Homo sapiens: one gene and its partner. The gene in region 1 interacts genetically with each later gene. Each region holds a gene or a part of one and is shown on either strand. Other genes may lie near its edges. The genes, in order: NOD2 and RBL1.

The links.
Region 2: changes in NOD2 (region 1) and RBL1 together harm fitness less than expected from each alone (positive genetic interaction), as found in Homo sapiens cells (one study listed by BioGRID).

The regions. Positions count from the first base shown.
Region 1 is NC_000016.10:50,724,028-50,732,581, forward strand, and holds part of NOD2 (nucleotide-binding oligomerization domain-containing protein 2), read left to right. Parts: intron 1-1,461; coding exon 1,462-1,545; intron 1,546-3,387; exon of another isoform or gene 3,388-4,423; intron 4,424-4,985; exon of another isoform or gene 4,986-5,123; intron 5,124-5,790; coding exon 5,791-5,874; exon of another isoform or gene 5,875-5,926; intron 5,927-7,719; coding exon 7,720-7,792; 3' UTR 7,793-8,554. UniProt on the Homo sapiens protein: Pattern recognition receptor (PRR) that detects bacterial peptidoglycan fragments and other danger signals and plays an important role in gastrointestinal immunity.
Region 2 is NC_000020.11:37,063,994-37,072,547, reverse strand, and holds part of RBL1 (retinoblastoma-like protein 1), read left to right. Parts: intron 1-4,361; coding exon 4,362-4,562; intron 4,563-5,250; coding exon 5,251-5,315; intron 5,316-5,426; coding exon 5,427-5,555; intron 5,556-5,663; coding exon 5,664-5,824; intron 5,825-7,074; coding exon 7,075-7,124; intron 7,125-8,554. UniProt on the Homo sapiens protein: Key regulator of entry into cell division. Directly involved in heterochromatin formation by maintaining overall chromatin structure and, in particular, that of constitutive heterochromatin by stabilizing histone methylation.

The DNA of each region.
Region 1 (8,554 bases):
GATAGTTGAAAGAGGAACCATGAATCATGCTTATACTGTTGACCTGAAGCAGATTCTAAGTTTCTCATCCTTTAGATGCCACTAGTATAGTTTTCTGACATGTTCTGGGCAGCTTCAGATTATGTCAGGGAGATAAAATACTGAATGTTTGATTTTCCCGGGAAGCAGAAAGGCACTGCAACATATGGGCATTGCCATAAACAGATTTTATGGATGGACCTTGGCTGTTGCAGGGCTTACTAGCTCTACTCAAGTATGATTGATTCTATCCTGACTGGATTTTGCCACTTGGAATTTCTTAGTAGAGGAGAACCTTGTTATGAGAGCATCAGTTATGATTACTGTTAAAAGAAAAACTTTAGGCAAATTAAATTTAGCAGAACTGGTTTGAACATACAGCAATTTATGAATTGGGCAGCATTCAGAACTGGGAGTGCTCCACCCAGCAAGGTAGGCAAGCAGTATCTATAGACAGGAAAAGGAAGTGATGTACAAAACAGCTTGATTGGTTGCAGCTGGGCATTTGCCTTATATGGGCATGGTGTGATGAGGCATTTTCTTTATATGGATATAGACTGATCAGCTGGTAGACTGTGACTGACTGAAGCCTGGCTGCTGTGATTGGCTAAGACTTAGCTGTTTGTTATAAGGATATGTTGTTAGGTTGCAGTTTGCTACATAGGAACTCAAAGTACAGAGGCAGTCTCAGGCCAAATTTAGTTTAACTATATGTTAAGCTGCAGGTGACAGAATACCTCCATCTATAGAGGTTTAAACAAGGAAAGGGTTTATTTTTTCCTGTATAGGCAGCTGGATGTAGGCAGTGTAGGGTTTGTACAGTGGCTACAAGAGGCCAGGAGGGGTCTCAGCTCTGTCTCATTCTCTTCCTGTTCCATCATTCTTAGCCTGTGACTTCATTCACATGGTTGGTTGTCTCATGATCACAGGATGGCTGCTCCAGGTGCAGCACTACTTCTGTATTCCCGGATTCGATCTATATACCCAGGAAAGCCATCTGGGTTCTCTCCTTTAAAAAGCATTCCTGGAAGCCCCACCTGTCGACTTCCCCTTATGTATCAACCATGTGTATGTCACTTGACCAACCCACTTGTATGTTGTTTGACCAGCCCTGGCTGCAATGGAGAGTGGGAAATACAGTTTTTTCACCAAGTGCATGGCTGTCCAAATGAAATGAGACTTCCATTAATAAGGAAGAAAGGAAAGATGGAGATCAGGAAGCTGGGGGATCAGGGAACTTATTACATTGAGAGCCCTTGGAGTGAATTCTCTTGCAAATATGTCCCTGGAATTGAGAATCCCCACAACGTACTTTATCTGTTCTTTCTTTATCCATGAGTTTGGGTTTTCAGATGTTGGATTTCCTATATGGGGGGCATGTGAGTTCATCATCTTCCATAATCAATGTTGTATCAACTGGATTTTCTCTCTTCTTCTCACCAGCCTGGAGGAGAACCATCTCCAGGATGAAGGTGTATGTTCTCTCGCAGAAGGACTGAAGAAAAATTCAAGTTTGAAAATCCTGAAGTAAGGAACCCATAAGCAGGAAACAGGACAATAATTGCTGGCCTTTGGAAGGGGCATTTCTGAATAAGATCTGGGCCGCTCTCCGCTGGGCTAACTCATGTGAGGTGGCCTGGTAGAACAGCTTGCCTTGGTCTAGGTGGACAAGGATTCCAGTGCAAGTTGTTTATCTGGGAGGTGGTCCCAGTAAATGCTGATAGGAGAGTGGTGAAGTGAGATGGGGAAGTGAAGGTAACCAATAAAGGGGAGTTATCAAGCCAGTTATCAATGAGGGAAATTGGAGCTCAGTACTCTGGGGCACTCCTGGAGCCAGTGCAGAACACACATGGTCACCTACCCAACCAATGGGCAAGAAAGCCATGGCATTTATCCACCAACCCTCTGTCCTTCCTATGTTGATGTGCGCTCATGGGGCACTGATTCTCCAGCACTTCCAGCTCACCCTCACCCAGCTGAACATGCTTCTGGGGTCAGGAGAATGGCCTCAGGCAGAGAGTGGAAGGTCTTCTCTGCAAGCAGTGGCTGGGGAGGTGATGTGATGGGGAGTACTGTGGCCTCCTCCAGTGGCTGACTCAGTGGCTTGGGACTTGTGCCACAAAGAGATGGACAGCTCAGGTGAACATGAACCCACCTAGTGACCATCATGGGTTTGTCAGGGTGCTCTCTGAGGCTGATGCCAAAATTCTTATTTCAAGTAGACCTCAGGAACCCCATCAGATGGCTCCTTTTGCTGGAGGAAAGTGGCATCTGCCTAGGCAAATGTGGTCCTAGGAAAACGCTTGCCTTTAGAGACAGACAGACAGACAGCTGCCTCTGTGAGTGCCAGCTTTGCTGCCAGGCTGCTACCCACTCTGGCGACACTCATTTGTGTTGCTTTCACAAGCTAGGAAGTTTCCAAATATTTGGAGAAAACACTTCCACTAATTATTTGGGTGGAAATGGGCTGGGAAGTTGGGGTGAAGCCCGGATGTGTCTGAGCCAGATGCCAGCTTTGCACTGAGGGTCGGCCTTTGGGAATACCAAGCCCATTATCAACCAGGTGTGGATATGGCAGGTTTGTCTTCCCTCCTTGTCACAGCCTTACTCCACTTGACTCCCATGGATGCCAGGCAATGAGGCTGGGGTTGGTCCCATGCCACCCTGTCATCAGCCTTATTTTTCAGCATCCTAAACTATATCATCCCCCACAAAAATTGAACTTCTGATATATCTTTTATAAAAAAGAGAAATGCCTACATCTTTCTTTTCCAGGCTTAGTTTCTGCCAAGAGTTGGTTGAGAGCCCAGGCTTGCTGGGTGCAGTGGCTCACACCTGTAATCCCAGCACTTTGGGAGGCTGAGGCGGGTGGATCACCTGAAGTGGGGAGTTCCATACCAGCCTGACCAACATGGAGAAACCCCATCTCTACTAAAAATACAAAATTAGCCGGGCGTGGTGGCATACACCTGTAATCCCATCTACTCAGGAAGCTGAGGCAGGAGAATCACTTGAACCTGGGAGGTGGAGGTTGCCATGAGCCAAGATCACACCATTGCACCCTAGACTGGACAAGAGAGAAACTTCCATCTCAAAAAAAAAAAAAAAAAGGATGAGAAAAATAATAATTTAAAAAAAAGAGTCCAGGCTCTGGAACCAGACAGCCTGGGTCTTACCCCTGCTCCACCATTACCAGCCAGTTCTTCTTGGATGAGTGCCTCAGTTGCCTCAAGTGTAAATGGAGATAATGGCTGGACCTTCATTATAGGCCATGAGCATTCACTGAGAGAATGTAGCTAACAAAAGTGAGTTGTAGGTTGGAGCAAAAGTAATTGTGGTTTCAGACCATGAACTTTAAATTATTATAACTAGGCTAAAATACATCTTTATTAATCAAAATAGGAACCATTAAAATCAACACATTTTTGCCAATAAGAAATAAGTTTGTTTATTCCTGTAGCATAAAAATTCATGCTTCGGGATTCAACAAACTCTTGGAAAGCATTTTCTGCATCCTCCTGGTTGTGGAAGCATTTTTCCTGCAGAAAGTTGTCAAGATTCTTGAAGAAATGGTAGTCAGTTGGCTAGAGGTCAGGTAAATATGGCGGATGAGGCAAAACTTCATAGTCCAATTCATTCAACTTTTGAAGCTTTGGTTGTGTGACATGCAGTCGGGTGTTGTCGTGGAGAATTGGACCCTTTCTGTTGACGAATGCCGGCTGCAGGTGTTGCAGTTTTCAGTGCATCTCATTGACTTGCCGAGCATACTTCTCATATGTAATGGTTTCGCAGGGATTCAGAAAGCTGTAGGGGATCAGACTAGCAGCAGACCACCAGTGACCATGACCTTTTTTTTTTGGTGCGAATTTGCCTTTGGGAAGTGCTTTGGAGCTTCTTCTCGGTCCAACCACTGAGCTAGTCATTGCCAGTTGTATAAAATCCACTTTTCATCGCACGTCACAATCAGATCAAGAAATGGTTCGCTGTTGTTGTGTAGAATAAGAGAAGATGACACTTCAAAATGACGATTTTCTTGGTTTTCACTCAGCTCATGAGGCACACACTTATCGAGGTTTTTCACCTTTCCAATTTGCTTCAAATGCTGAATGACCATGGAATGGTCGATGTTGAGTTCTCAAGTAGTTGTAAGAAAATCAGCTTTGATGATTGCTCTCAATTGGTCATTGTCAGCTTCTGATGGCCTGCCAGTACACTCCTCATCTTCAAGGCTCTTATCTCCTTCGCAAAACTTCTTGAACCACCACTGCACTATACGTTAGTTAGCAGTTCCTGGGCCAAATGCATTGCTGATGTTGTGAGTTGTCTCCGCTGCTTTACAACCCATTTTGAATTCAAATAAGAAAATTGCTTGAATTTGCTTTTTGTCTAACATCATTTTCATAGTCTAAAATAAATATAAAATAAACAGAAAGTATTAAGTCATTAGCAAAAAATCATAAAGTGAGAATTGTGCATTAAAATGATGTATAGCATAACCACATTTATTTAAGAATGTATTCCAATATCAAATGGCAAATTTCAACAATGCAAAAACTGCAATTACTTTTGCACCAATCTAATAGAAGTTCAATAAATACTGGCAATTACAATTGGCATTGCCTTAGGGTCAACTTGTAAGACATTCCTGAAATTGTGGGAAAGGGGGAGGACCTGGAGTGGACATTATTGGAAGGCAAAGCTGTAACCAAAAGAGCAACCTGGGAAACACATGACTCCTCTGTTGCTGTCCCTGGCCCTATCCTGTCTCCCCTCCCTGTTGTCAGCTACCTCATATGTTCTCTAATCTCTGTCTCTGTGCCCTCAAAGACCCCCCTGAAAATAGAAATATTACTGCTCATTGGTTATTTTCTATCAATTAAGTACTGTATTAGTCCGTTTTCATGCTGATGATAAAGATATACCCAAGACTGGGCACTTTATGAAAGAAAGAGTTTTATTGAACTTACAGTTCCACGTGGCTGGGGAGGTCTCACAATCATGGCTGAAGGTGAAAGGCACATCTCACATGGCAGCAGACAGGAGAAGAGGGCTTGTTCAGGGAAACTCCCCTTTTTAAAACCATCAGATATCATGAAACTTATTTACTGTAATGAGAACAGGATGGGATTCAATTACCTTCCACTGGGTCGCTCCCACAACACGTGGGAATTCAAGAGATTTGGGTGGGGACACAGCCAAACCATATCAAGTACTGTGCAAGTGTTTTAGGCATGCAGAGAGTGGTGGGTCTTCCCAGCAAGCAGAGTGTGGGGAGGTAATGGGGGACTGGTGGCTGACTTAATGGCCCAGGACCCATGCCACAAGGAGATGGATGGTGGATGTGAATAGGAGCCTGCTTACACCCATCACAATTTAGATTCTTATGCTCGATGGCACGGGTACTCTTTTAGGCCCATTTTACCAATGAGGAGATTGGGACTAATTTGCTCGAGATCAAAAAAGAAGTGGTGTAGGTGGGATTTAAACCCAGGATGTCTAGCACTAAAATGCAGGTACTTAACCACTATCCTAAGGGAGTGGCTACTTAATTTGATAAACTCATCTAGTGAATGGAAGAGAGACGGTTACATTTCACTGATGGTACTGAGCCTTTGTTGATGAGCTCATTGGGAATCTCAGACATGAGCAGGATGTGTCTAAGGGACAGGTGGGCTTCAGTAGACTGGCTAACTCCTGCAGTCTCTTTAACTGGACAGTTTCAAGAGGAAAACCAAGAATCCTTGAAGCTCACCATTGTATCTTCTTTTCCAGGTTGTCCAATAACTGCATCACCTACCTAGGGGCAGAAGCCCTCCTGCAGGCCCTTGAAAGGAATGACACCATCCTGGAAGTCTGGTAAGGCCCCTGGGCAGGCCTGTTTTAGCTCTCCGAACCTCAGTTTTTCTATCTGTAAAATGGGGTGACGGGAGAGAGGAATGGCAGAATTTTGAGGATCCCTTCTGATTCTGACATTCAGTGAGAATGATTCTGCATGTGAAGGATCTGATTCTCTGTCTAAGAAAGAAGTCTTTACCTCTTTAAGTAGGGAGCAATGATTTCATTTTTAAACCTTGACTATTTATTCAGCAACTTCTCTGCTCTATGAGATAGTGTAGGAATGGGGATGTGGTTGAAGAATGAAAAGAAAAGTCAGCTCCCGCCCTCCTAGAAATTGCATCTGCCTTCACAGGTCAAGGATATTGGATCAGACCTTCTGCGGTTCTGAATGGAGATTACACAGGTTAGGAGCAGGTTGCACAGTGTTTCCAATTCTCTATAATTAAAGCCATAGACTTTCATGTATTGAAAAAAGCAAGAATTGCATTCTTGACAGATTCTTTCATTGCCTTAAAAAGAATGACTAGCCTTGGGAGTCTGGGCAGCTGGGTCCAGTGTTGTAGACTTTCTCTCTGCTGAGCCACAGCTTCAAAGATTTGTCCTTCTTGTTTCCAGGGATCTATTTCTCAGACAATAAGTAAAGGCTTTCCCTGGCCTAATGTGCTGTAAGTGAATGCTACTATATATGTTCCAGGCACTGGGCTAGAGACTAATATTTAAAAGCCAGGAAATTTCCTATAGAAAATCTATATCTCAGGGTTTTCTCAAAAGAGCTGGGAACTCTGGATGCCCATTCATGATTCCAGTAGTTAACCAGAGTACAAGAAGGGCTGAGTCTTCTCAGATGGGCAAACCCACTCTGGCTGACTGCAGATCCACCAAGCCTATTGTCTTAGACCAGGACCCTTTGGCAACTCATTCCCATAAGCCTGTGACCCTTGCTTTAAATATGCAGGCCTTGTCTTCTCTCAAAAAGCACATCAAGGCTGCAGCGAATGCAGATATCAAATGATGAAGTTAAAAACAAAAGCTTTGCTGGGCGTGGCAGCTCACACCTGTAATCCTAGCACTTTGGGAGGCTGAGGCAGGAGGATCACTTTAGGCCAGAGGTTCAACACCAGACCTTGTCTCTCAAAAAATAAAAAATTCAGCTGGGTGCGGTGTAGTTCCTAGCCACTTGGGAGGCTGGGATGGAAGGATCCCTTGAACCCAGGAGTTCAAGGCTGCAGTGGGCCATGATTGCATCACTGCACAGGCGACAGAATTAGATCCCATCTCTTAAAAAAATAAAAAATTTAAAAGTGACTTCAAAAATCTATGCTGTGATGGAGAGATTTTTCCTTCTGTATGATTGTGATAGCTCTGTGGCCTATGACGTCATCAGGTTCTGGGCAAAGTGTAGGTTTTCTGTTTCTTTGTTTTTGAAACCATTGCACAGTCCTAAGAAACATCACATTCTGGGTCCTGGGCACCAGCCAACATGAGGTTGATATTTTAAGGGGTCTGATGTTATTTGCTGCCTGTTGATGGAACTTGGGAGGGCACCAGGGTTTGCTCATTGCATTCTTGACAGATTCTCTTATTGCCTTAAAAAGAATCACTGGCCTTGGGGAGTCTGTGGCTGGCTGGGTGCAGTGTTGTGGACTCTCTCTGCAGAGTCATGGAGCCTTGTTCAGAATGCTTCCTGAGCTGCCCTGGTTGGCCAAGGGTAAAAACAGCCCTGACTTCCCTGCAAGAAACACTGCAGCTGGGCCAGAGAGTCAGCCCATCCCAGGCATGGGTTTAAAAAGTGGAGGCTTTTGTTTGAAAGCCCTGCTCTAATTTTGTCCTCACTCAAACCTCTGTTCACTTGATCTGCTTTAGGCTCCGAGGGAACACTTTCTCTCTAGAGGAGGTTGACAAGCTCGGCTGCAGGGACACCAGACTCTTGCTTTGAAGTCTCCGGGAGGATGTTCGTCTCAGTTTGTTTGTGAGCAGGCTGTGAGTTTGGGCCCCAGAGGCTGGGTGACATGTGTTGGCAGCCTCTTCAAAATGAGCCCTGTCCTGCCTAAGGCTGAACTTGTTTTCTGGGAACACCATAGGTCACCTTTATTCTGGCAGAGGAGGGAGCATCAGTGCCCTCCAGGATAGACTTTTCCCAAGCCTACTTTTGCCATTGACTTCTTCCCAAGATTCAATCCCAGGATGTACAAGGACAGCCCCTCCTCCATAGTATGGGACTGGCCTCTGCTGATCCTCCCAGGCTTCCGTGTGGGTCAGTGGGGCCCATGGATGTGCTTGTTAACTGAGTGCCTTTTGGTGGAGAGGCCCGGCCTCTCACAAAAGACCCCTTACCACTGCTCTGATGAAGAGGAGTACACAGAACACATAATTCAGGAAGCAGCTTTCCCCATGTCTCGACTCATCCATCCAGGCCATTCCCCGTCTCTGGTTCCTCCCCTCCTCCTGGACTCCTGCACACGCTCCTTCCTCTGAGGCTGAAATTCAGAATATTAGTGACCTCAGCTTTGATATTTCACTTACAGCACCCCCAACCCTGGCACCCAGGGTGGGAAGGGCTACACCTTAGCCTGCCCTCCTTTCCGGTGTTTAAGACATTTTTGGAAGGGGACACGTGACAGCCGTTTGTTCCCCAAGACATTCTAGGTTTGCAAGAAAAATATGACCACACTCCAGCTGGGATCACATGTGGACTTTT
Region 2 (8,554 bases), on another chromosome or scaffold:
ATGCAAAATGTGATCATCCAAAAATAAAAACAGTCTTTTTTTTTTAAGACGGAGTTTCGCTCTCGTTGCCCAGGCTGGAGTGCAATGGTGCGATCTCAGCTCACCGCAACTTCCGCCTCCCCGCAACTTCCACCTCCCCGCAACTTCCACCTCCCGGGTTCAAGCAATTCTCCTGCCTCAGCCTCCGGAGTAGCTGGGACTACAGGCATGTGCCACCACGCCCGGCTAATTTTGTATTTTTAGTAGAGACAGGGTTTCTCCATGTTGGTCAGGCTGGTCTCGAGCTCCTGACCTCAGGTTGTCCACCTGCCTCGGACTCCCAAAGTGCTGGGATTACAGGCGTGAGCCACTGCACCCGGCCAAAAAACAAAATTTTTAAAGTCCTCTGTAAGGGAGCATAATTTTTTGTAAGCCAAAAAATATTTAGTAATCTGACAAATTTTTTGCTGCTGTTGGTAAGAATCTTTTAATGAGGTCCTTAAGAGTCTCAGATTATATCAGCATGTCCAGAGTTTGAATGCTGTATTAGGACGTTTTACGTTGCTATGAAGGAATACCTGAGGTTGGGTGACTTATTTAAAAAAAGAGATTTATTTGGCCCAGGGTTCTGCAGGCCGTATAGGAAGCATGGGGCTGGCATCTGCTCCTGGTGAGGGCCTCAGGAAGTTTACAGTCACGGTAGGTGAAGGGGGAGGAGGCACATCACATGATGAGAGCAGGAGCAATTGAGGGTGGGAAGTGCCACACTTTTAAACAGCCAGATCTCAGGTGAGTGACAACTAAACTCACTACCATGAGGAGAGCACCAAGCCATTCATGAGGGATCTGCTCCCATGACCCAAACACCTCCCACTAGGCCCACCTCCAACATTGGAGGTCACGTTTCTTTTTTATTTTTTTGAGACGGGCTTTCACTCTCTTGCCCAGGCAGTAGCATGTTCATGACTCACTGCAGCTTCAACCCCTCAGGCTCAAGTGATCCTCCTGCCTCAGCTTCCTGAGTAGCTGGGCCCACAGTCACACACCACCATGCTTTGCTAACTTTTAAATTTTTTGTAGAGACGAGATCTCACTGTGTTGCCCAAGCTGGTCTCAAACTGGTGGGCTCAGGTGATCCTCCAGCCTCACCCTCCCAAAGTGTTGGGATTACAGGCATGAGCTACCATGCCCAGCCAAGGAAATTACATTGCAACATGAGATTTGGAGGGGACAAAACATCCAAACCACATTAAATAGCTTTGGATGATTTGCTATTAATGTCTTCTGTCACCTTAAAAAGAAATTATAAGTATTGGCCAGGCGAAATGGACTCAAGTAAGCCTTTCCAATCTACATGAAATAATCAGAACATAGGGCCGAGTGCAGTGGTTCATGCCTGTAATCCCAGCACTTTGGGAGGCCGAGGCAGGTGGATCATCTGAGGTCAGGAGTTCAAGACCATCCTGGCAAACATGGTGAAACCTTGTCTCTACTAAAAATACAAAAATTAGCTAGGCATGGTGGTGTGCACCTGTAGTCCCAGCTGTCAGGAGGTAGAGGCAGGAAAATTGCTTGAAGCTGGGATGCAGAGGTTGCAGTGAGCCAAGATCATGCCACTGCACTCCAGCCTGGGTGACAGACTGAGACTCCATCTCAAAAAAAAAAAATTACAAGTATTATTCTGTATATATTGCTAGACCTTTAATTAAGTGAGCTTTGACATGACAAGTTTTCTATCTAAGACCACGTTAACATAGGGACATAAAAAAATGTACCCAGAATTGGCCTGGGCACGGTGGCTTGCTTGAACACAGGAGGTGGAAGTTGCAGTAAACCAAGGTGGTGCCACTGCACTCCAACCTGGGCACCAGAACTATTAAGTTTTTTTCTGAGTATGTGCTACCTTCTTTACTTTTGGTTGTGGAACCACACATTGGAACTCAAACTCTTGAATTTTACTCCTAACCTGTAACAATCTGGTGCTTTGTAATCAAATTCCCATTTGGAAAATGGAATTGTCTTTCCATTTGGGAGACTTCTGTTTTCCCTCAAACTAATTTTATTTTATTTTATGTTTTTTTTTTTAAATTTATTTATTTTTTATTGATAATTCTCGGGTGTTTCTCACAGAGGGGGATTTGGCAGGGTCATAGGACAATAGTGGAGGGAAGGTCAGCAGATAAACAAGTGAACAAAGGTCTCTGGTTTTCCTAGGCAGAGGACCCTGCGGCCTTCCGCGGTGTTTGTGTCCCTGGGAACTTGCGATTAGGGAGTGGTGATGACTCTTAAGGAGCATGCTGCCTTCAAGCATCTGTTTAACAAAGCACATCTTGCACCGCCCTTAATCCATTTAACCCTGAGTGGACACAGCACTTGTTTCAGAGAGCACAGGGTTGGGGGTAAGGTCACAGATCAACAGGATCCCACGGCAGAAGAAGTTTTCTTAGTACAGAACAAAATGAAAAGTCTCCCATGTCTACTTCTTTCTACACAGACACGGCAACCATTCGATTTCTCAATCTTTTCCCCACCTTTCCCGCCCTTCTATTCCACAAAGCCGCCATTGTCATCCTGGCCCGTTCTCAATGAGCTGTTGGGCACACCTCCCAGACGGGGTGGTGGCCGGGCAGAGGGGCTCCTCACTTCCCAGTAGGGGCAGCTGGGCAGAGGCGCCCCTCACCTCCTGGACGGGGCGGCTGGCCGGGCGGGGGGCTGACCCCCCCACCTCCCTCCCGGACAGGGCGGCTGGCCTGGCAGGGGGCTGACCCCCCCACCTCCCTCCCGGATGGGGGTGCTGGCCTGGCGGGGGGCTGACCCCCCCCACCTCCCTCCCGGACTGGGTGGCTGCCAGGCGGAGACGCTCCTCACTTCCCAGACTGGGTGGCTGTCGGGCGGAGAGGCTCCTCACTTCTCAGACGGGGCGGCTGCCGGGCGGAGGGGCTCCTCACTTCTCAGACGGGGCGGTTGCCGGGCAGAGGGTCTCCTCACTTCTCAGACGGGGCGGCCGGGCAGAGATGCTCCTCACCTCCCAGACGGGGTCGCAGCCGGGCAGAGGTGCTCCTCACATCCCAGACGGGGTGGCGGGGCAGAGGCGCTCCCCACATCTCAGACGATGGGCGGCTGGGCAGAGACGCTCCTCACTTCCTAGATGGGATGGCGGCGAGGAAGAGGTGCTCCTCACTTCCTAGGTGGGATGGCGGCCGGGCGGAGACGCTCCTCACTTTCCAGACTGGGCAGCCAGGCAGAGGGGCTCCTCACATCCCAGACGATGGGCGGCCAGGCAGAGACGCTCCTCACTTCCCAGACGGGGTGGCAGCTGGGCAGAGGCTGCAATCTTGGCACTTTGGGAGGCCAAGGCAGGCGGCTGGGAGGTGGAGGTTGTAGCGAGCCGAGATCACGCCACTGCACTCCAGCCTGGGCACCATTGAGCACTGAGTGAACCAGACTCCGTCTGCAATCCCGGCACCTCGGGAGGCCGAGGCTGGCGGATCACTTGCGGTTAGGGGCTGGAGACCGGCCTGGCCAACACAGCGAAACCCCGTCTCCACCAAAACCAGTCAGGCGTGGCGGCCCGAGCCTGCAATCGCAGGCACTCGGCAGGCTGAGTCAGGAGAATCAGGCAGGGAGGTTGCAGTGAGCCGAGATGGCAGCAGTACAGTCCAGCTTCGGCTCAGCATGAGAGGGAGACCGTGGAAAGAGAGGGAGAGGGAGACCGTGGGGAGAGGGAGAGGGAGAGCTCCTAATTTTGTATTTGTAGTAGAGACGGGGTTTCTTCATGTTGCTCAGGCTGTGTCTTGAACTCCCGATCTCAGGTGATCTCAAACTAATTTTATAACCTGTCAATCTGTTAACTAACATTAACTTTGTAAATTTTATGCAAAATATTGTCTAGGTAATATAGAGAATAAAGGAAGTAGATAGGTGCTCTCGCTCCCTCCATAGCAGTAAACTCTATGTGATGACCACTAATTAATAACCTGTATTCCCCTGGTGATCCTGGGAACGAAAGTGATTTCATAGTGAGGACTTTTTTTTTTTAATTAAATTTAGGCTTGAGGGATGGTGTTTGTTCTTTGTTCATGTAAGACAGTGTCTTGCTTTGTCACCCGGGCTGGAGTACATGATTGAGGCTAACTGCAGTCTCGACATCCTGGGCTCAAGCAATTCTCCCACCTCAGCCTCCCAAGTACCTGGGGCTACAGGCACATGCCACCACACCCAGCTAATTTTTTAAATTTTTGTAGAGATGGGGTCTTAACTATGTTGCCTGGGAAATCTGGCTTTTTAATAAAGAGTCTTAGTCATGAATAGAATATTTCCTTTCAATCCATTATTTAAATGAATTTTAAAGGTGCCTTTTTTCTCCTCCTTTTTTTTTTTAGTTTAATACAATTTTTTAGTAAAATGAAGAAATGGATGGACATGTCAAATCTACCACAAGAATTTCGTGAACGTATAGAAAGGCTAGAGAGAAATTTTGAGGTGTCTACTGTAATATTCAAAAAATATGAGCCAATTTTTTTAGATATATTTCAAAATCCATATGAAGAACCACCAAAGTTACCACGAAGCCGGAAGCAGAGGTGAGCCCTTAATCCTTATATAATTGACATAAAGATTATGATACAAACTAAGAGAATATACTTTTTTGAAAGTCTGTTTTTTATGAAAAGTATTCCTGCAAAGAACTTAATTATTTTCTTTTTAAATCCATGTACAATTATCCATATTTGGAAATTCAGGATAATACTTTTACTTATTTTTCTTTCTGTTGTTGTTTTTTTTTTTTTTTTTTTTTTTTTGAGGAGTCTCATTCTGTTGCCCAGGCTGGAGTGCAGTGTCCTGATCTCGGCTCACTGCAACCTCTGTCTCCCAGGTTCAAGCAATTCTCCTACCTTAGCCTCCTGAGTAGCTGGGATCACAGGTGTGCACCACCCCGTCTGGCTCATTTTTTGTATTTTTAGTAGAGACCAGGTCTCACCGTGTTGGCCAAGGTGGTCTCGAACTCCTAACCTCAGGTGATCTACCCACCTCGGCCTCCCAGAGTGCTGGGATTACAGGCATGAGCCACCACACCCAGCCCTATGTTCTGATTATTTTATGCAGGTTGGAAAGGCTTACTTAAGTCCATTTCATAAATAATAGATTACTTTTCTTCATGAATGGAATTTCATGTGTAATTTGATCTATTTGATATTTACATTTACTATTTCAGTTTACATGATATTTAGCGAGCTAGTCAGACAAAAAGTAATTTTTTTCCCTTTTTAGGAGGATTCCTTGCAGTGTTAAGGATCTGTTTAATTTCTGTTGGACACTTTTTGTTTATACTAAGGGTAAGATGACACTTTCAGTGGTCTTACATTTCTACTCTGGGAACTTGGTGCTATTTGACATGAGAGGTTTCTGGTTTTTGTGTCTTTTTTTTTTTTTTTTCCCTTATAAAGGTAATTTTCGGATGATTGGGGATGACTTAGTAAACTCTTATCATTTACTTCTATGCTGCTTGGATCTGATTTTTGCCAATGCGATTATGTGCCCAAATAGACAAGACTTGCTAAATCCATCATTTAAAGGTAAGACCTTTTATTTATTTTTGAAAACTGATTATCAGTTTTTGGAAAAAGATTTTTAAAAGTTGACTATTTTTTTTTCCCTCTGCCCTTCCTACACTGTCAAACTAGGTTTACCATCTGATTTTCATACTGCTGACTTTACGGCTTCTGAAGAGCCACCCTGCATCATTGCTGTACTGTGTGAACTGCATGATGGACTTCTCGTAGAAGCAAAAGGAATAAAGGAGCACTACTTTAAGCCATATATTTCAAAACTCTTTGACAGGAAGGTACTGTACTTATAATTAGATGACTGAGATGTTTACAGATCACCAGTAATGTGAAAAGAAAAAAATGTTTTAAGCAAGTTCTCAGCATTATAGAACTTAGGGTCAGGATTCCCAGGCTTTAGCCTCTACTGTGATTCAGAATTTCCTTATGATCTTGTGTGATGTGAGAAACAGAGCTGTTGAAAAATGTGACCAACTATATGTACTGTTGGGTAAATGTACTGTCAGAGGCAACCGTAGGAGGTACTGATAAAGAATTGTAAAGAATAGAACATCAGAGTAGGGCTGACAAATAATTAGGAAAAACAGGAGGTCAGAATAAGCTGACTAATTTACTGCCACAATTTGAATAACTGCTGACTGTTGACTAAAAGTAGGATGATGTATAACAACCACAGTTTTAATTCCATGTAAATCGAGCAGAAAATCCATGATAGTTTTGTAGCCACTTGTAGGCTATCTGTGTGCATTCTGGACATTGTCTCCTTGGTAATTAACTTAGCTATTTCTACATTTATGAATTGGCTTGTTCCTTTGGGTTTCAATTTCTTATTTCCCCAACGTCGAGCCATTAAATGTAGTTAAGCCTCAAGATTTCTCTTTGGTAAAAGGAGGGGTTTGGATTATGGATCCCACTTTTCAAATATTATGAGATTTTTCTTTAAGCATAAATTCTTCCCTTACTGGTTTCTTCTTCTTTTATACAAATTTTTGTATTCAGTCTTGTGTTCCTCAGATATCTATATTATGGCCCATTGTCTGTATGCTAAACATCTCTAGCAAAGTAAACTTTTTTTAAAGGATCCCAGGGACTGGGCGCGGTGGCTCACGCCTGTAATCCCAACACTTTGGGAGGCCAAGGCAGGTGGATTGCTTGAGCCCAAGAGTTCCAGACGAACCTGAGCAACATGGCAAAACCTTGTCTCTACAAACAATACAAAAATTAGTTGGGCATGGTGGTGCACAACTGTAGTCCCAGCTACTTGGCACGCTGAGGCTGCAGTGAGCCATGATTGTACCACTGCACTGCAGCCCTGGTGACAGAACAAAACCCTGTCTCAAAAAAAAAAAAAAGTTAAAAAAAAAAGTTATTTGCATGCTAAATAGTTTATCCTAGTCTGAAAGAAATATTTAATAATTCTGTTTTGTGTGTGTGTTATAACAATATGGAAATTTAGATAAATTTCACGTTTGTGTGTGTATTAATATGCTTAATTATATGGTGTCCCAAAATAATTTTTTGTTCACAGATATTAAAAGGAGAATGCCTCCTGGACCTTTCAAGTTTTACTGATAATAGGTAAATATCTAGTACTAATGGTGCCTGGCTTATCACAAGCTGTCATATTTGTTGATTTGTTGAAATTTGTTAAGCATAACAGTATATCAAAGTAAGACCTCCAAATTCAAGTTCTCTCTGCTTTAGTGGCATTGAATGTTTATTATCACTAAGACTTGTTGGCTTTAAATACATTTATTTTAAGAAATCAAGGCCAGGCACGGTGGCCCACACCTGTAAACCCATCACTTTGGAAGGCCAAGGCAGGCAGATTGCTTGAGCTCAGAAGGTTGGAGACCAGCCTGGGCAACATGGTGAAACCCTGTCTCTACAAAAAATACAAAAATCAGCCAGACGTAGTGGTGTGAGCCTGTGGTCCCAGCTACTTGGGAGGTTGAGGTTGGAGGATCGTTTGAATCTGGGAGGTTGTGGTTGCAGTGAGCCGTGATTGCACCACTGCACTTCAGTCTAGGTGACAGAGTGAGACCCTATTTCCAAAAAAAAAAAAAAAAAGAAAGAGGCCGGGCATGGTGGCTCACGCCTGTAATCCCAACACTTTGGGAGGCCAAGGCGGGCCGATCACTTGAGGTCAGGAGTTTGAGATCAGCCTGGCCAGAGATCAGCCTGGCCAACATGGTGAAACCGCATCTCTACTAAAAATTCAAAAATTATCTGGGTGTGGTGGTGCACACCTGTAATCCCAGCTGCTTGGGAGACTGAGGCAGGAGAATCACTTGAACCCAGGAGGCAGAGGCTGCAGTGAGCTGAGATCATGCCACTGCACTCCAGCCTAGGCGACAGAGCGAGATTCCATCTCAATTAAAAAAAAAAATTATTGATACTTACGTATTTATTTTTATTTTTTTAGAGATGGGATCTCACTGTGTTGCCCAGGCTGGTCTCTAATTCCTGGCCTCAAGCAATCCTCTCACCATAGCCTCCCAAAGTGCTAGGATTACAGGTATGACCCACCACACCCGGCCAATTGGCATTTAAAACAGCTACTCAGCCAGGCGTGCAATGGCTTATGCCTATAATCCCAGCACTTTCGGAGGCCAAGGCAGGCAGATCACGAGGTCAGGAGATTGAGACCATCCTGGCCAAAATGGTGAAACCCGGTCTCTACTAAAAATACAAAAATTAGCTCGGTGTGGTGGCACACGCCTGTAGTCCCAGCTACTTGGGAGGCTGAGGCAGGCGGATCGCTTGAACCCAGGAGGTGGAGGTTGCAGTAAGTTGAGATCGCACCACTGCACTCCAGCCTGGGCAGCAGAGCAAGACTCATCTCAAAAAAAAAAAAAAAAAGAAAGAAAAGAAATTAAGGCCGGGCACAGTGGCTCACACCTGTAATCCCAGCACTTTGGAAGGCCAAGGCAGCCAGATCGCTTGAGCTCAGAAGGTTGGAGACCAGCCTGGGCAACATGGTGAAACCTTGTCTCTACAAAAAATAC